Linked DNA regions of Homo sapiens: region 1 is linked to region 2. Evidence: fine-mapped expression QTL. Tissue or cell type: testis. Region 2 holds a variant in brackets; the other region holds the start of a gene. All regions are shown on one strand. Distances are from middle to middle.

Evidence for each region. PIP is the estimated chance that this variant, and not a neighbour inherited with it, causes the effect.
Region 1: it holds the start of EPB41L4A, and the variant in region 2 is fine-mapped to the expression of EPB41L4A in testis (GTEx, PIP above 0.99).

Annotation. Positions count from the first base shown.
Region 1 is chr5:112,416,678-112,421,828 of GRCh38, reverse strand. It overlaps EPB41L4A (erythrocyte membrane protein band 4.1 like 4A), which reads left to right and starts at 2,552. Exons shown (of 23, transcript NM_022140.5): 1 at 2,552-2,888. The coding sequence starts at 2,790. EPB41L4A-DT (EPB41L4A divergent transcript) reads right to left here and starts at 2,246. Exons shown (of 1, transcript NR_027706.1): 1 at 851-2,246. RefSeq lists a silencer at 1,798-1,887.
Region 2 is chr5:112,298,851-112,304,001 of GRCh38, reverse strand. The region is part of intron 2 of EPB41L4A (erythrocyte membrane protein band 4.1 like 4A); the gene reads left to right. Among named protein-coding and RNA genes, the nearest start is that of EPB41L4A, 120 kb to the left of the region's middle. The variant T/C (reference allele first, on the strand shown) is at 2,274.

The sequences.
Region 1 (5,151 bases), 120 kb before region 2:
GTAGTGAGCCGAGATCGCGCCACTGCACTCTGATAGAGCGCGACTCTGTCTCAAAAAAAAAAAAAAAAAAAAGAAAGATGACAAAGTGCAGGAGGAAACCTTAGGGAGGGATGAATATGTGTACTAGCTTGATTATGGTGGTGGGTTCATGGGTGCACACTTATGTCAAAACTTATCAAATTGTACACTTAAAAATTATGCAGTGAACTGTATGTAAATTATATGCAATAAAGCTATCCTTAGAAACTCTGTGGAATCCTCTTGTCACTAGTAATCTCTAATTTTGTGTTAAATAGATTTTAAATGTTCTTTTCTCCAGTCTCCGATAAAGAAATGGAAAAGAAAATGCTTCACTCAGGAAAGAGTGTCATATGTATGGGACCTTATGGCTTTGTAACTTACCTTATGAGGAGCTGGGAACAGAATCCCTGCCCATCCAAAACCCTCAGCCTTCTCACTGCCACTGGAGGTAAAAAAACAAAAACAAACAACAGCAAAACCAAAAATCAGAAAGCAAAAAAACCAAATCAAAGGGCCAAAAAACAGGTGAGAGCAAAACTCAAAAAAACTGGGAACAGATGATTGCTTGAACCTTTTGTTTTTGCAGCCTCAAGTGTCTCGGTTGGATATGGAGGTAAAGAATGAAAATGTTAAGCCATCTTTCAATCACATTTGGTAACTCCTGTCAGGAATACTGTATTACAGAAAAGAAAAGCCTCTACAAGCAGAAATGCTAAAATCTAGCATAATAAGGTGTCACCTCATAAGGCAGGCAAGACTTTGACAATAAAACAAAGCTGGACACGAAATTTGATCAGAAATTCAAAACCTGAGTCAATTTCACAGAAAATTCAGAAGATAAAATAGTTTTATTCATAGCCTAGGTAAAGTTCAGAAATTTATATTGCACTTTGGCGGTTATGCTGATCCTGTGTTTGGATGGGGTCACAATAGCAGGGAAGGCCGAGGCTTCCTACAGAAGGTCCTTTGTGGCAAATCACTATGAGAGGAAACTCCATCAAAAGTCGCCAATTGTTCATTTCATTTCTACTGTGCTACGGAAGCCTGGTTTTGTTTTAAGGGCTAACGTCCTAGGTTTTAAGCAATTTTTTTTGAGCTTTGGCTACCCAGCTAACAAGCAGTAGAATAGTCAACTCAAAACTACGTCTGATGCCAAAGCTCTAACTCTAAAACTCAATATAGAGTTTTTTTTCTGTGACACCTCCCCTCGTGTCTCCCCTAACTGCGACTCGCATTAACTCGCTGCTGGTTCCCAGCTGGAGAGCACAGATTGCACCTGCTCCGAAGCCCAGCGGGGCTCAGTGTCGTCCGCAGCTCAACCTCGGCTGCCTGTGCACGGACATCGGGACCCACCAGGGGTCACTGCAGCTTCAGAGCTATTGTGCCCCTCAGTCCTGGACGCGGCCGACCGCGCGGAGGGCGTGGGATTGGGACCGCCGAACCGTGGGGTCCGAGCAGCACCGCGTCCTCTTCTCCCCACCCAGCCTCCAGGTCTCTCGGGGGAAGGACGCAGCGAGCGCTGGACTGCCCCGCGGCTTGGGCGCAGTGTGCGGCTTGGCAGCGTGGACTCGCCGGCACCTCGCCGCTGGGACCACGGTCTCTGCCCCGCCCTCCGCCCCCAGCTGATACCCCGCCCAGAAGGGGCTCCCCTGCCGCGGCCAGCGCTGGACTGGGGGGTCCGCTTCGTTCCAGGGCTTTTTGCAGACGCCTGGACCGGGCCCACATGCACCTGGGCTGCTCCCGCCCGGGGCGCCACCACTCGCGCGGCCAAGAGAACTTTCCCCGGAGCCTCTGCGGCCTGGCGCGCCCAGGGCGCACCCCCCGCTCGCCCGTCCGCCGCGTTCCCAGCTGGGGCGTCGCTCCTCCGCCCGCAGGTCCCCGCCTCCCCGCTTTGCTGAATGTCCTGAAGAAGCCGTATTCCGCCGCCGCGGCAGGCATTCCCGGAGGGAGAGCTTGAACTTGGCTACACACGGCCACCCGTAATGAGCTCGGGAGTCCCCGGACGGGAGCCACACCCCGCGACGAGCTGACCTCCCCTCGCTGGTCTGGGTAAGGAGCCTGCTGCCCTTTCCGCCTCTCTTCCGGCTCCTCGGCGCTTGCGGCTGGGGGACGGGGTAGCGGACGGAGCGACGACCTTCGCCTCTGCCCCTGCGCCCATGGTCGGGGCGTCGTGGGTGCTCCTCACACAAAAGAAAAGCCGAGCGCTTCATACTCGGCGGATCTGACCCGGGGCTGCGGGGCGGGGTCGCGGCTGGAAGTGCGCGCCCGCGGGGGACTCCGCAGGCCGATCGGACGCCAGGACGTCGGGGCCGCGCTCAAATCCGTGCGGCAGGAGGGAGGTGCAGCGCTTCCAGGGTTTTCCAAGGCCGGGGAGAGCCTCGAATTCCCATCACTCCTTTTTCTGGTCTCTTGCCCCCAGTGCCAGGAGACTTTTGTCGTCCCCAGGACTGCGGGAGGGGCCCCGCGCCCCCGCCTTCGGAGGAGCTCGAGCCGCAGGATGCGCGGGGACGCGCCACCGCCCTCCGCGCCCAGTTCCGCCGGCGCTTCCCCGGCGGCTCCCGGGCGCTGACTCTCCCGGGCTTTTCCGCCTTTCTCGCTCCCGCCCCGCCGGGCGGTTCGGCGGCCGGTCCCCGGACCCCGCCGGGAGCTGCTCGTCTCACCCTCGCCACGGCGCGGACAATAAATTAATGCATCGCGCTTGAGTGGAGGGGGCGGCTGGGCGCCTCGGTGGTAGCTTTCTCTCCTGGCTGGAGACGACCACAACCGACATGGGCTGTTTCTGCGCTGTTCCGGAAGAATTTTACTGCGAAGTTTTGCTCCTGGATGAATCCAAGTTAACCCTTACCACCCAGCAGCAGGGCATCAAGGTGGGTGCGGCCCGGAGCGCGTTCCGGGGGTTGGCGGCAGGGCGGGTGCGGGGGTCCATCGCTTTGAGGGCTGTCACCGGTGGGTCGAGGGCGGCGGCCGCGACTCTGCGCGGTGGGGAGGAGAGGCCGCTGTCCCCTGCGCGCAGGGAGAGGGTGGACGTACCAGGGTGAGTTAACTTTGAGTTCCTTCATAAAGCAAAGTTGAGTTTGACGTTTCTAAGTTTACTCAGCACACCGGCTCCCAGCAGCACCCCAAAACTCTTCCCCAAACCGGTTTTCTCCAAAAGCCTCTGGGTGCCCCGCAGCTCTCAAAGAGGGGCAGAATGGGTTATACCAGCTGCGTCCCACCAGTGTGGAAGGCATGGTTTCCCTCGACTTTGTTGAAGGCGTTTTCCTTGACAGTGTTATTAGGGAAGTGAACTAGTTCACTCGTTGAAACGCATTAATGGGTCATTGTGATTGTTTTGCGTGGGTTCGTAGTTGGGTAATGCTACGTTTGGACGGAAAATATTTTCCCTTTCTACAGCGACCTGGGTTTATCCTCACATTTAAGTAAACATCTCTCAAAGCGACCCAGTAATAACTTTGCTCCTGTTTGTGGGTCATTAAAATGCAATCACTACATTAACCTAGAGAGCCCAAACAAAAAGGCAGCAGAGCTCGCAGAGATCCTCTTCCTTACATTGGATGAGAAGGTACGTATGTTTGTAGTGACAACCTGACCGACGCGCCTGCGTGCTTGTTTTGCTTTTGCAACAGTGTTAACTACCTAAAGGAGATCTAAATCCGGAGCGTTTTGTTGTTTTGTTTATCTTTCTCTTTCAGTTTTAGATCGCTAAGGCATTTTAGATAAGGCAACAGCTGAGTCTGGTGAAGGGAAACCGCCCCCCCGCCCCCGCTCTGATAGAGCTGGCTTTCTGAGAAATCGAGTTCAGGCTGCCAAGTATCCTCTCTTAGTCGCTTCATCTCAGAAGTTAATCATAATGGGGTAGGCCCTGGGCATTTCCTTTTGTGAATCAGTTTTTACATAGTTTTATGCACACTAGGATAACTATTCCTGGCTAAAAGTTTCAGCGTTAATGTTGCCATTCTTAGTGTACAGAATTCCAGTTTCATAGGTGTAATTCTTTTGCGGGAGAAAGGAGCAAAAATAATCAGTTAAAGCTACAAGATTGTTAACCCTTTCCTTTAGGAGGTTGTTTTGAATATTGTTTCCCCAGTAATTATACTGAGCAAAATTCAGTTCGATTCTCATTCGGTATTTCCTTTCAAGACCAATAAAATAGACTCTTTTCGGGGAGGGTGTACATTTTGTATTTTTAACTTTTCTTTATGTTCCAAAATATTTCTCCTCTCACCCGCCCAATGAAATCAGGAAAATATTGTAACTTACAAGATGATGTAACATTCTTTGGTGTACTGTATGAATAAAATAGGCAAAAATCACAAAAACATCCTAAATTGTAGATAATATATAGATTCTTGTGTCGAGATAGAAACAATTAGAAAAAGGTAACTGATGATCAGATACTAAGACAGTAAAGAAATCTTTTTGAAGTGCAAAGTCTAAATTATCTGGAGTCTAAAGTCATCTGGAATGTGAGCTTCCTATTTAATCATCAAAGTCATGCCTATCAGCTGTAGAGCGTGTACATTATTCTGTCAAGAGAGCAGCCAGGACTTGGGATCAAATGGAATAATTTTGTCAAAGAAACATGAATCAAAAATCCTGATCCATAATTATTTTTTATAATCCAGTGGTGCTTATCTTGTTTTACAAATGGGCTGAAAATTGGTGAGTGATTCAAAGGCAACAGCAACTATGTAATACTGTTACTTTGGATATGGGCCATATAACTAAACAATAATTTAAGCAGGCTGTTGTTGGAAATAATCATTTAACAACAGGCTTGGCCTCTGTCCTTGTCACAAAAGCATGCCACAATTATTTTGATGGCCATGTGTGTAACACAGATGTTGTCTGCTAAAGCTAATCACATTATCTTCTATGCTACCTTAAAAGTGTATGTGTTAAACACCTACCCACCCTTGGCGTGTACTAAATTAAATATATTTGCATATTTATAAATGGTGTGTATAAAAAAACTTGCATGTAGAGGTATTCAAACATTGGATGAACATGTTTATGTTCTGTACATACTTGACATTTTAAAAAACTTTTTCCTAACCTTCCTGTATTATGGTGCATAGGTACAATTGATGTGTGTTGCATTAATTACTTAAAATTAACTCCTACTTTAGT
Region 2 (5,151 bases):
GCTGGATCTTACCACCTTGCTTTTTCTGTTTTGTGTCTCTGTACCCTACCTGCTCCCTCTTTCCAGTCAGTGTTTGGGTGTGTTCAAGTCTTTCCCATTTAGAACCTCCCGTTCCCCTCCTCCTTTGCCCTCCCTTATCTGCTGCTGTCTTTGGCTCCTTCTGCATCACGCGTAAACTTCAGAAAACCTTGTCTAAGTTTCTTACATTCACTTCTGAAATCCCATTGTTTCCTAAACATATCACCATGCAGCTTTTTTCCCGATCACATCACTGAAACTGGCCCTGCCTTGCCAGTTGCTAAATCCAAGAGACTCTGTCAGTCCTTGTCTTACTTGACCTTTCTTTTGCTTTGACACTAACAACTTGCCCATTCTTGAAATCTTCTCATTTTGTTCTTCTGGCACTATATTCTTTTTGTTTCTCTCTCTTCATGTTTTCTCTAGTTATTCCTGTTCAGTCTTCTCTACGATTGTGATTCCACTGCCTGTTCCATAAAATGTTGGTGTTCACCAGGATTTTGTCCTTAGTTCTCTTAGGCTCTAACTCTGTTCAGGCCCACACATTTAGTGCTACCTTTGCTAGTACTGTTTACCTCTGAGATAATTTCCTTAACCATCTAAACTAAGCTGTGTATGTGTTAATATTTGTATTCTCTTCCCTGCCCCCGAGTACTCTGAGTATTGAACAAAAATCCTCATCCATTGAGCTCTAGCAGGCATGCTTAAGTGTGTCCTCTCTGCCGTCAGTAGTGGCCCCTCTTCCTTTCATCCTGATGCTGTATTTTGTAACGTGTAAAGTTTCACATTCTGTGATTATATGTTCTGGAAAGTACCTATAATGACTGATAAAATATGTATAAGTGATAATGTGAGTCCTGTTGCAAAGAAAGGAAGATTGTCATGCTGGATTATTACAGAATGAAACTTACTATGTGAGATGTCTTCAAGCAACTGTTGGAGGAACAGAGGGGAAAGATCAAGAAGCAGAAAGTTCCTCTTAGGTAACCCTTTGACTTTATGAAGAGCATCATGAGAAGCACAGTATCCTGGGAGGGCTGACAACAACACATGAAGGGTATCTGGGAAACAATGATGGCAGGTGGCTTTTCAAGAGTCCACGGCCTGGAAGCCGGAAGCATCTATAGGGGGCCCCATAGCACCGAAGGTCTAAGTTTCCTGCTGACGAATGTGTGTTACTTTTCCTTGGTAACTGTTCCATGGTTTAAATTATATTGAAAGACTGAGCCTCAGATTCCTATCTTCAACCCAGATGTTTCAGGAGGGACTACACTGTGTTAAAATTCAAAATCTGGATTCAGACTGTATGGGTTCAAACCACAGTCTACCTGGAGAGCTGTGTGGCATTGAGTGAGTCTCCCTAACTTTTCTATACTTCAGTTCCTCTGTTTATAAAGTGAAGATAGTAATAGTACCAGCTTCATAGGGTGGTAGTGATGATTGAAGGAATCTATAAAAAATACACAGACTAGTGCTTTAACATGTGTGGTCCACATAATGTTTTAGCTGTTGTTCACTACTCGGATGCCTCTCATGTATCTCAAAGGTAACATATTCAAAACTGAAGCCATCTTCCCCTCCAAATCTGCTCTTTTTAAAAAATGTTTCTGAGATCAGTGATTTTCAAGATTTTTTTTTCTTTTAGAGATGAGGTCACACTATGTTGCTTAGGCTGGTTTCAAACTCCTGAGCTCTAGTGATCCTCCTGCCTCAGCCTCCCAAAGTGCTAGGATTATAGGTGTGAGCCACCATACCTGGTCTATGAATTTTTTTAAAAAACCATGTACTCGTGTGTAATTTTAGGTTGAGAATTGAAATTTTGTAAGTTTTAGTAGATCCAGATCTTTGGTTTATCATAAATACTGACATTGTAAAATCAAATTGTCATATTCCTTTTAAATGTATCCTATGAATTTATATTTCATAGCAATTTTGTACTCTTCATCTACCTTTATAAAAATTTATGAACAAGCTCTTTTTTAAAAATCAGAAACATTTATTTATTCCTTTTATGTCGTTAAACTTGTATTCCTATTCTACTTTCTCCCTAAAATGTTATTATATTTTTATTAATAAAAAACATATATCCATAATATACATATAAATTGGAATTTTAAAAGTTTATTTCCTAAGATGTTAAGGCTCTAATTGTTGTTGAGCCCTAAAAGTAGTTGTTATTACCATGGTTGTCACTATACAATTAATTAAAACAGCAAAATACTATGCATTTTAATAATTATTAAACATATTTTCTA[T/C]GGAAATTGACAGACAGGGGGCAGGACTAGATTGCAGTTCCCACTCGGACGGATCGTGCAGTGTGTAGAGACTTGCATTGTGAAATTTTGCTCCAGAACTACTGCAGAAATATACCAAGAAAGCTGAGAGAATCCACAGACCCTTTGAAGGAAGCAGATTGCTCCTGCAGGAACCCAGAGACACTGCAAATACTGTGCTGGTATCCATGGCTGAGAGACATGAAGATGGTTCACATCACAGGACTCTGTGCAGACAACCCCTAGTACCAGCCTGGAGTCTGGTAGCCCTGCTGGGTGGCTAGATCCAGAAGGAAATAACAGTCACTGCATCTCAGCTCTCAGGAAGCCACATTCCTAGGAAAAGGGGGAGAGTGCTACATCACGGGAACACCCCATGGGACAAAAGAATCTGAACAGCAGCCTTAAGTTCCAGATCTTCCATCTAACATAGTTTACTCAAAGGAGAAGGAACCAGAAAAACAATTCTGGTAATATGATAAAAGAATGTTCTTCAACACCACCCAAAAAATCATACTCTCTCATCAGCAGTGGATCTAAACCGAGAAAAAGTCCCTGATTGACCTGAAAAAGCATTTAGAAGATTGATTATTAAACCAATTAAGGAGGCACCAGAGAAAGGTGAAGTCCAATTTAAGGAAATCAAAAAAAATGATACAAGGAACGAGGGGAGGAATCTTCAGTGAAATAGATAGCATAAATAAAAAACAATCACAACTTCAGAAAATAAAGGACACACTTAGAGAAATGCAAAATGTTCTTGAAATTCTCAGCAGTAAGACTCGAACAAGCAGAATAAAGAACTTCAGATCTCGAAGATAAGGTTATCAAATTAACCCAGTCCAACAAAGACTAAGAAAAAAGCATTAAAAAAATGAACAAAACCTCCAAGAAATGTGAGATTACATTAAGTGACCAAATCTAAGAATAATTGGCATTCCTGAGGAGGAAGAGGAATCTAAAAGTTTGGAAAACATATTTGGGGGAATAATCTAGTACAGCTTCCCCAGCCTTGCTAAAGACCTAAACATCCAAATAGAAGGAGCTCAAAGAACACCTGGCAAATTGCAAAAAGATCATTACCTAGGCACATTGTCATCAGGTTAGCTAAAGTTAAGATGAGGGAAAGAATCTTAGTAGCTGTGAGGCAAAAGCATTAGGTAATCTATAAAGGAAAACCTATCAGATTAACAGCAGATTTCTCAGCAGAAACCCTACAAGGTAGAAGGGATTGGGTCCCTATCTGCAGCCTCCTTAAACAAAACAATTATCAGCCAAGAATTTTGTCTCCAGCAAAACTAAGCTTCATAAATGAAGAAAAGATAGTCTTTTTCAGGTAAACAAATGCTGAGAGAATTTGCCAGTCCTAAGACAGCACTATAAGAACTGCTAAAAGGAGCTCCAAATCTTGAAACAAATCCTGAAAACACATCAGTAACAGAACTTCCTTAAAGCATAAGTCTCACAGGACCTATAAAACAAAAATATAATTAAGAAAAAACAAGGTATACAGGCAACAAATAGCACAATGAATGGAATAGTACCTCATATCTAAATACTAATGTTGAATGTAAATAGCCTAAATGCTCCACTTAAAAGATACAGAATTGCAGAATGGATAAGAATTCACCAACCAGGTATCTGCTGCCTTCAAGAGACTCACCTAACATATAAGGACTCACATAAACTTGAGATAAAGGGATGGAAAAAGATATTCCATGCAAATAGACACCAAAAACAAGCAGGCATATGTCAGTCAAAACAAACTTTAAGAGTAGTTAAAAAAGACAAAGTAGGACATTATATAATGATAAAAGCCCTTGTGCAACAGGAAAATATCACAGTCCCAAATATATATGCACTTAACACGGGAGTTCCCAAATTTGTAAAACAATTACTACTAGACTTAAGTAATGAGATAGAGAGCAACACAGTAATAGTGGGGGACTTCAATACTGCACTGACAGCACTAGACAGGTCATCAAGATAGGAAGTCAGCAAAGAAACAATGGATTTAAGCTATACTCCAGAACAAATGGACTTAACAGATATTTACATAATATTCCTTAATAGAGATGGGGTTTCACCATGTTGGCCAGGCTGGTCTCAAACTCCTGAACTCAGGTGATCTACCTGCCTTGGTGCTGGGATTACAGGCGGGAGCCACCACGCCTGGCCATTTACAGAACATTCTACCCAACAACTTCAGAATATACATTTTATTCATCAGTGCATGGAACTTTCTCCAAAATAGACCATATGATAGGCCACAAAACAAGTCTGAATAAATTTAAGAAAACTGAAATTATATCAAGTACTCTCTCAGACCATAGTGGAAAAAATTCTTCAAACTGAATGATAATAGTGACACAACTATCAAAACCTCTAGGATACAGCAAAGGCAGTGCTAAGAGGAAAGTTCATAGCCTTAAATGCCTGTATCAAAAAGTCTGAAAGAGCACAACTAGACAATCTATGGTCACACCTCAAGGTACTAGAGAAACAAGAACAAACCAAACCAAACCCAACAGAATGAAGGAAATAACCAAGGTCAGAGCAGAACTAAATGAAATTGAAACAAAAAGAAATGCAAAAGATAAATGAAACAAACAGCTGGTTCTTTGAAAAGATAAATAAAATTGATAGACCATTAGCAAGATTAACCAAGAAAAGAAGAGGGAAGATCCAAATAAGCTCAATTAGAAATGAAATGGGGGATATTACAACTGACACCACAGAAATACAAAAGATCATTCAAGGCTACTATGAACACATTTACGTGCATAAACTAGAAAACATGGAGGATATGGATAAATTCCTGGAAAGAGACAACCCTCCTAGCTTAAATCAGAAAGAATTA